Linked DNA regions of Homo sapiens: region 2 is linked to region 1. The links come from fine-mapping of genetic effects on gene expression. A gene starts in region 1. The other region holds a variant in brackets. All regions are shown on one strand. Distances are between the middles of the regions.

Region 1 (4,385 bases):
TATGTTCTCATGTAAACTTCATAGCTCTATAAGGGAAACACTGATCCCAATTTCACAGATGAGGAAACTGAGCTTTCAAGGCTAATTTACCCAAGGTGATAGAGTTGGAAGTCACTAACTGGGTTGTCTGACTCCAAATCTAGGCTCTCAACTGCCATGCAAAACTTTCAATGTCAACTTTCAATGGTAACATAGTCACAGTGTTGCCTACAAGTAAAAGAAAAGTTACAAATTTTGCCTTGAAAGATACTGACCACTACATATTTACTACACATACTTAAATTTATCACCTGAACTATACTTCTATAATACCTTTTTTTCCAAAACTAAAATAAAACTCAGAATCAAAAGTTCAATTGTGCAGGTGTATCATTTATTTGCAATATACTTACTTCCTCCCCAACAGACACTCCTTGAAAGCATGAACCATTCTCACACCTCAGTATTTCCCCATGAAACCTCCATATGGCAAGCATTCAATAAACGTTAAATGAACACAAACTTAGTACAAAATGTTACTCATTAATAACTTCTGTTAGGAACAGAAACCTGAAGATATAGAATAAGCACAGAAGGAACTAAACTTAGTTCATAATATACTAATGGGAAATGTGCTGTCTTCAGAATCATTCTTACACACATAGGATACAACTTACGTATAAGGTGCTACTCTCATCCACTGATGGAACTGATTATGTAATCATACTCATAAAAGCAAATGCCAAGAGTGAACACTCATGACTAAACAACCAAAGAATGATCTAATGTAGAAACTAAAATCCCCCATACCCTCATGCTATGTACTTCCCCCTGTACAGACTTCACCTGGAAGACCTCAACCTCAAACATCCTAGCCTCCATTTCTGTGTCTTCCAGACACACAACACTTTCCTTCCTAGAAGGAAAGCTCCTGAGAACAGGGAGATTTTTCTTCTTTTACATCCCCAAATGACCTAAAATAGTATCCTGAATACAGCGGGGCACAGCTAATGTGTAAAATGGTTGAAAAGAATGGAACATTTTCAGTACCAGCTAAGGTATACTGACCACATACAATGTAAGGAGAAGCAACAACCTTACCCTTAATTCTACAGATGGCAGCTTCCTCCTGAGAACTTCTGCAAACACTTGCTCTTAAAAAGCAACAAAAAAGTTGCTAGAAGACTAACATCGCAGACAACAAAGCTCTATTCTATGCCAACAGCAATAATACGCCCATAAGAGAAGACAACTGAAAGGATCCCTGGGGCCACAGGGCTCTACTTGTTACAGATGCTTCCTTAAGTCCCTCAACACCCAGGTCCCTAAACGCATCATAAAGGTGAGTCTAGAGAGTCTTCGCAAGTTTTAAGTCTCTTAGGAACTTATTTATAAATACATGTGAAACAAGAGAATCATTTATCCAGAAGAACAGAAAGCCTTCCAAACTTCTGTACTCCCAGGAAGTCTACTTTGAAATACGTCAAAAGAAGTTACATGGAGACATACAAAACATGTCTAAAGATCCAAATTGGTAACTCTCAAACTTGAAGCTGGTTTAAACCCATCGACCAGAACTTACAGTTCTGGCTATGCCCTTCTCATTTGCAACGCTGCGGCGCAAATGAATGACGGTGTATCAGCGTTAAATTTAAATTTCCTGGCTCTGGCCACAATGCTAACCTAATTAAAGCATGTGGTCAACGTTTAGCATTTTCGGTGCGAGATTTTGCATCGCTTTGGCGAACAGCAAAGTCGAAAGCGTTTGCACCGGTCTTCTCCCCGCCACCCCCCGACCAGGGGCAAAACCCTCTCCCAAATGCTTTATCAAATGATCCAGAAACCCCCCCACACCCCACCCCCCGTACCGCCCACGGTCCCCGCCGAGCGGCAACGGAGGCACCACTTCCACGACCCACGCCAAGAGCACTTTGAGCTCAGTCCGAGCAAGTCACTTGTGTCAGCACCACTTCCCCACGGCTGGGACCCCCCCCCCCACCCCACGCCCGGCAACTTCAGGACCCCCCGGCCGGGGCCCCTCGGAACGGAGGCTCGGGCTCCCCTCACACACATTTCCCGTCCAGCAAACTGCGGCCGCGGCGGGGGAGGGGACGCGGCGGGCGCGGGCGGCGAGCGGGGCCGTCGGGCGGCGCGGCCGGGCCGGGAGGGGCGGCGGGCGGGGGGCGGCCCGAGGCCGGGGGGAGGGGAGGTACCTCGTACAGCTCCTCGGAAGCCATGGTGGGCGGCGGAGTTGCGGGCGGGAGGGGCAGGGTCGGGGCGGGCGCCGGCGCCGGGCGGCCGACACTTTGTTTCAGTTGGGTCCTGCGTGGCCTGCGCTTCCTGCTCCCGCGGCCGGCCGGGCGCTGGGCACGGACGAGCCTCTTGCACTCCGCGGCCAGTGCGGGCCGGCGGCGCGGCGGGGTTGTGCGCAGGAGCAGCTACGCAACGCGCCCTGGGCGCCCCGCGCTCACTCCCCGGCGGGCCGGCTCGCGCTCGGGCTCATCGCGCCCCGCCGCGGGGCCGGGCGGGCTGGGGCGGGCGCGGCGGCGTGCGGGCGGCGCGGCCGGATCGCGGCTCCCCTCTCCGGTGTAGTGCAGAAAGCTTCCTACTTGCGACCAAAAAACCTGCCCCGGCTACTGAGCATGCCCAGTGCGGCCGCCCGGCCCTGCGGAGCCGCGCTCCCGCGCTCCGGGTTTTCGGGCCGCCCGCGCGGGAGGGGCGGGGCGGCGGCGGGGCGGGGCAGCCGAGGGGAGCAGTGGGCTCCGCTCGGGGCCGAGGCGGGCGGCCGGCGGGGCCGGGAGCGAGCCGGCAGGAAGGGGAGGAGCGGGGCAGTCGGGGGCGGGGCCGCGAGCGCGGGGGGCGGGGTGGTGGGCGGGGCTCCGACTTCCCCAGTCCCGCTTGCGGGGTCGGCCTGGCCCGCGGCACCGCCCCCCAGCCCGCCTCGACGTGGGCGCTTGCGGCCCGGCCCAGGGCAGGCGGGACCTGGACCTCGAGGTTCGAGGCGCAGCGCGGTTGTGCACACCAGGACGGGCAGCGACGGACCCGAGATGGGGCAGGGAACCATGCGAGCGAGCCGGCCCGCGTCTGGAGCCCACCGCCCCGACGGCAGCGGCCGCGCCGTCTACCGCGCGCCTCCCTCCAGGAGGAGCCCAAGAGGCGGCCTCCGTGCGCCCGCCCGTCCGGGGCCGGGCCAGCCCGCGAAGGGCCGGCGGCGTGGCCAGGTGGAGCACCCACCCCACCCCATGCCCGCCCCACCGGCCGCCGCCAAGACCCGGAGCCCGGGCCGCGCGCCCCGCGGGGTGGCCCGGCGAGCTCCGGCTGGCACGCTGGCTCCGCGGCAGGCCGGGGGTGGGATCCGGGGGGCGGGAGCCGGGCGCGGCGGAGGGCGGCGCGAGGGCGCGGCTGCCTCCGCTCTGCCCGCAGCTCCCCCCACGCCAGGCCTCTGGGTTCCTCTCGGAGCGTCCGCCTCCTCCGAAGCGCAGCTGGGAAGGGACCGAGTCTGGATTCCAGGGAGGTCCGGGTTCTAATCGAACGAGGCTGTCAATGGTGGTTCCTTTCGCGGAACGGTGTGGACTACACGACAGGCCCTCGCTCAGAACAGCGAGGGCTGGCCCGCGCTCCACTTCCCAGGGAAGATCTACTGCCAGGGCACACCTGCCGGGCCCTGGACGTGCCCCATCGGTGGCGAAAGAAGGGGCTTCCTGACCCAACTCCCCCAGACAGCCGCCAACTCCGATCACTCTGGCCGAGTATGCGGAACTTCCCCACGGGGCACTGCAGAGGCATTAGTTCACCCTCTCCCCCAGGCCCTGCATCGGGAAGCCCTCGCCAGTTCCTCCATGTCTCCCCGGGCATCCTTCGGGCCGCCTCACTCCTCCGTGCTCCATCTCGCTCCAGTTCCTAACCTACCTTGGAGCCACAAGGCTCCTCCCACCAGTTTTCTTCCTAAAGCCCTATTCGTTTGTGCCCCCCAACAGCGTTTCAACAACCACGGGGCGTCTCACAGACCCCGCGGTTTCCTGTCCTCCCCACGCCCAGGAACAAGCACCACGCCAACCCTTAAGTCACTGCGAGTCGAATCGCCGTTCCCCTTAAGCGGTGCTTCTACCTGCGGTCCCCACCGTTTGAAACAAACTCCCAGCTCAGGGATCACCTTAAAAGGATAGCCTTCCTGACTTCCAGGGCCAAATCGGTAACTCCCTCTTCAAGCGCTGCCTAAGCACTCACGCGTGCTCACTGCAGCACTCGTCTCTGTATTTTAAGGTTTGTCTACTCTTCACCCCACCCCAACTCCAAACGATGACCTTCAGTCAGACTTCATCTTCAAATTTGACGCTGGCCCCTAGCACCATTCTCTATACAGGAAATAAGGTGTTGTTCAATGAATGGAATTTCAGTGTCCACGA
Region 2 (4,385 bases), 180 kb after region 1:
TGAAAACACAACTTGAGTGTTGCCTGGAGGTTAATTAGAAAAAGGACTCCCCATTCATCTGTTAGCGAGCGATGTTGTTACCCCACCCACAGAGCCCTTTGCTTGAATCCAGGCAACCTACCAGGCTCCTGAACAGTCTTCTCAAAGAAGTGTTTCTTGAAGGTCTCCAGTGCACCTCACCCTGGGCTCCACCGGCCCTCATTACGCTGCCATGGATGACGTTAGCCTCATCTTCAGTTGAGAAAGCTGAGACTCAGCAAGTTTCCTTGTAACTAGGGAGGGGCAGGGCAGTGGTTTAAAATAAAGCCATGCACACCTCCTTCCCCAGAGCATCCAGTGCCTTGCTGATGGAAAAGCCACCGCTGCTGAGAAAGGCAGCTGTGCCTGGGCCCCGCAGGTCACACTGGAGTCCTCACCTCCATCTCTGCATTCTGGTGCATTTGGAAGAGGATTTCTAGAGGTGGGAGAGGAGATGTAACTTCCCCCACCTCCTTCGCATCTTCTAACAGTTGCAGCCTCCTCTGCTTTGCGCATTCACAGGGAGGAGCATGGGCAGCACCTGCATGGGTGGCACACAGCCTCAGCCTGCAGGAGCATACACACCCCAACAGCACTCGTTCTGCAGCTGTGGCCTGCACCTTCCTCAACCCCTGGCCCCTCATCTAGGCTGTTACAGGGGAACTGGAATCCACCCGGCTCAGGGCCCAGGTACTTCCGCAAGAGGCTGTTGCCCTAAGGTAAGGCTCTGACGTTCCAAGTCTTAGGCATCCAGTATTTTGGTGGGATTTGAAAGACCTTACAGAAGAGACCCTCCTATTGTGCCCCAATGAGTCCTCCCAAATCCATGCAGTTCCCAGTTTCTTGCAGGTCCCCAGTGTACCTCACCCTGGGCTCCACCGACCCTCGTGATGCTCCTGGGGGTGATGCTGGCCTCATCTTCAGTTGAGAAAGCTGAGGCTCAGCAAGGTTCCTTGAAGAGCCACTCCTTTCCCAAACTATGCCATCCCCAAGAGTCCTGTGCTGAAGTGTTTAGAATCCATGATGATTTGTCCATTTGCCTGTTGTCTGGCGTGATCCCTTGTAGAACTCCGTAATACAGCATGAAAGTCCTCTGAGGCCTAGAGTCTTAATTCCATGCTCTTGGGCCCAGTGCACACCAGTGTTCTTGTCAATGAAATGATGAGTTTCATCTTTTCCTCACATATTTCTACAGTACTGAGGTTGGGATCATTTGAGATAATGGACAAGAAATTGATTTTTGTACAACAAAGTCCGTCTGACAATGTGTGAGATAGTTTCATTACTGTCACTGGGAAAAAAAATTTGTATTGGTCTGCTTTCCAATATGGCAACTGACTGAGAGCAAGAAAGACAAAGAATGTTTCAGTTTCTGAAGGGCAAGTTTGGAGAGAAAATTCCTGCCCATAGAGGTCATGTGGCTGAGGTTGAATGCTGTGGTGAGAAGCTCCTGGTATCCTGAGGACTACCTCAGAGTTTTGGGAATTTGGAGAAGGCAGCCAAAGTGTGGAGGAAAGAAAATTAAAAGGGAGAAGAAAGAGAACTCACTTATTTTGCATTTTGTCAACAGCTCAGCCCATCCTGAGACAGGTGATGAAGACATGGCAAGCCTTCCAGAAGCTGCTGTGTGTGTGTGTGTGTGTGTGTGTGTGTGTGTGTGTTTCAGACTCGGTAGGAAAGGATGGGCCATTGACAAGAATAACACAGACCAGCAGGCAGAGCAGGCATCACAGGAGACGCCCTAAAGGACAATAAGGAAGCAGGCTTGTGTGCAGCTGGGCCTGGCCTCCCTGGTGTGAACTGACTGGCTGGCACCAGGCAAGGTAGGCCGGACCTAGGGTGTGGTGGCTCATGAGGCCATTAGAGCATCTGTCAGGCCCAGCACCCAGGGCTTGTGCAGTGGGGCAGGCCCTACCCTTGCAACCGTGCAGGGAGAGGGTGAACTCAATCCAGAGCACTTCCTTCTTAGGGGGCCACATGTCCGTTGTGATTTCAGGGATTTGAGCACCTGCTTTTTCTGGCATATATTCTGTGGTCTTGTGGACACAGTATTGGCTGTGGCCCAGGCTCTGCCCTGGTTCTCTTCCCGACAGACTGTGTGGCCATGGGCAAGTCGCATCACTTCTCTGGGCTGCCACATCCTCTTTGATAAGACGATGAGGTTGGGCTAGATGACCTCTAGAATCCCTTCCGACTTGCTGTCAGATTGCTCTAGGATCCAAGATTCGTTTCTAAGACAATATTGAGAGGCAATACGGCCTATATGGCTGGATCCTGTGAGACGGGGGTTTACACACATTCTGATGCTGTACAATCTTCACGTTAAAAGCAAATACTGGAATATGGCATTCC[T/C]CAAAAAAATTAAACGTAAAATTACCATATGATCCAGCAATTCTACTTCCTAATACATATGCAGATGAATTGGAAGCAGAGTGTCAAACAGATAGTTGTACACCCATGTTCATAGCAGCATTACTCACAATAACCAAAGGATGGAAACAAACCAAGTATCCACCAACAGATGAATGGATAAAAAAAAGTGACATATCACAAAGGAATGTGATTCAACCTTAAAAAGGAAGGACATTCTGATACATGCTACAACATGGATGGACCTGGAGGACAATGTGTTGAGTGAAATAAGCCAGATACAAAAGGTCAAATACTGTATGATTCCGCTTACATGAGTCATCACCTTCCTAGAGACATGAAGTAGAAAGGTGGCTGCCAGGGACTGGGGCACTCACTGGGTAATCGGAAGTTACTTCTTCATGGATGCAGATTTTCACCTTGGGAAGATGAAAAATGTTCTGAAAATGGTGCTGGAGGTTGCACAACAATGTGAATGTATTTAATGTCACTGAAATTTACACTTAAAAATGGTTAAAACTTTATGGTATGTATATTTACCACAGTACAAAAAGCATGGCCGGGTGTGGTGGCTCATGCCTGTAATCCCAACACTTTGGGAGGCCGAGGCGGGCGGATCACTTGAGGTCGGGAGTTTGAGATCGGCCTGGCCAACATGGTGAAACCCTGTCTCCACTAAAAATACAAGAATTAGTTGGGTGTGGTGGTGCACGCCTGTAATCCCAGCTACTCGGGAGGCTGAGGCAGGAGAATGGCTGGAACCTGGGAGGTGGAGGTTACAGTGAGCCGAGATCATGCTACTGAACTCTAGCCCCTGGGTGACAGAGCGGGACTCTGTCTCAAACAAACAAACAAAAAACAAACTCCAAAACCAAAAAACAAACAAAAAACCCAAAACAAAAAACAAACCGAAATGCAAATACTAGGATGTTTATGTATCTTAACATGTTAAATTTAGTATAAGAAATAATTGTAAATCATAATTTGTGCTGGCATATAGCCCTCTTGTTTGATATGAGTGAAACTAATCATTGAATAATTAATTTGAAAAATTAAAGTGGGAAATTACTAGAATGATGCTTCTATACTCTATTTATTCACCAATCATCAGATTCTTTCTTCGTACTTAGGTTTGCTGAGAATTCAGCATGGTCTTTCTTACATAAACCACACTCAAAGTACATCATTTACAAATTCCAGTTTCAGAGTCTTTAACATAGAATTTGTTAGAAATCTTAGAGATCTTAGAGACACTTAAGAAGAACAATGAATGCAGATTCCTTCTAGGTTTCCTGACCCTTCCCCAAGCCCAATTCTTTCATAATTGCATTGCCCCACCTAATTCCATATCTATATCAAATCTATATCTATATCACTATCAGTTTATATAAGAGTTTAAACAACTAAGCTTTATAAAGTTTTCCCAAAGCATTCAAGTTATTATGGAAATGACAATAACATTCACCACCCACTTCAATGGGCTTGTGGACAAACACAGTTCTCAGTTTGTAAGCACAGAACTCAATTAGAGGAACAGATGTGTACAGCACACTGTAAAATGGGTGAAAAGACAAGCATCAGGTGGGCGAAGACAGTTGCAACACGTATACTGACAAATGACTAGGATTTCAAATATACAGAAAGAACTTAACCAGATTAATATGGAAAAGAAATAACCCAATAAGAAAAGGGGCTTATTAGACAGGCACAAAACCAAAGAGGAAATTCAGATGGTCAACAAACATGAAAAAGTGGCTCAAATTTATTAGTCATCAGGAAAATGCAAACTAAAACTACAATGAGATAGCCTTACACAGGAGACAGGAAAGAACTAAAAATTCTGAAAATACTAATCGTCAGCAAGGGTTTAGAGCCACAGCAACTCTAGCGAAAGTTCTATGAACTTAGAACTTAGAATTCATAGAGTCTAGTGAAACTCTATGAATGCCATTTTGGAAAGCAGTTGCCCTGTCTATGAGATTGAATATCCACATGCT

Direction of the effects. Alleles are on the strand shown, and positions count from the first base shown. SD is a standard deviation of normalised expression in the study named.
For the expression in monocytes after LPS of the gene that starts at base 2,596 in region 1, allele T in region 2 goes with a lower level than allele C (large effect, 1.0 SD a copy in Fairfax 2014).

What was found. PIP is the estimated chance that this variant, and not a neighbour inherited with it, causes the effect. A credible set is the group of variants that fine-mapping cannot tell apart.
Region 2: its variant is the best candidate, but not a certain one, in a credible set for the expression of CDYL in monocytes after LPS (Fairfax 2014, PIP 0.55).

The regions. Positions count from the first base shown.
Region 1 is chr6:4,774,615-4,778,999 of GRCh38, reverse strand. CDYL (chromodomain Y like) reads right to left here and starts at 2,596. Exons shown (of 7, transcript NM_004824.4): 1 at 2,193-2,596. The coding sequence starts at 2,216. It overlaps CDYL-AS1 (CDYL antisense RNA 1), which reads left to right and starts at 3,574. Exons shown (of 2, transcript NR_183279.1): 1 at 3,574-3,728; 2 at 4,243-4,385. RefSeq lists silencers at 2,245-2,794, 2,815-3,444 and an enhancer at 3,252-3,905.
Region 2 is chr6:4,598,362-4,602,746 of GRCh38, reverse strand. No RefSeq gene overlaps it. Among named protein-coding and RNA genes, the nearest start is that of KU-MEL-3, 10 kb to the left of the region's middle. The variant T/C (reference allele first, on the strand shown) is at 2,371.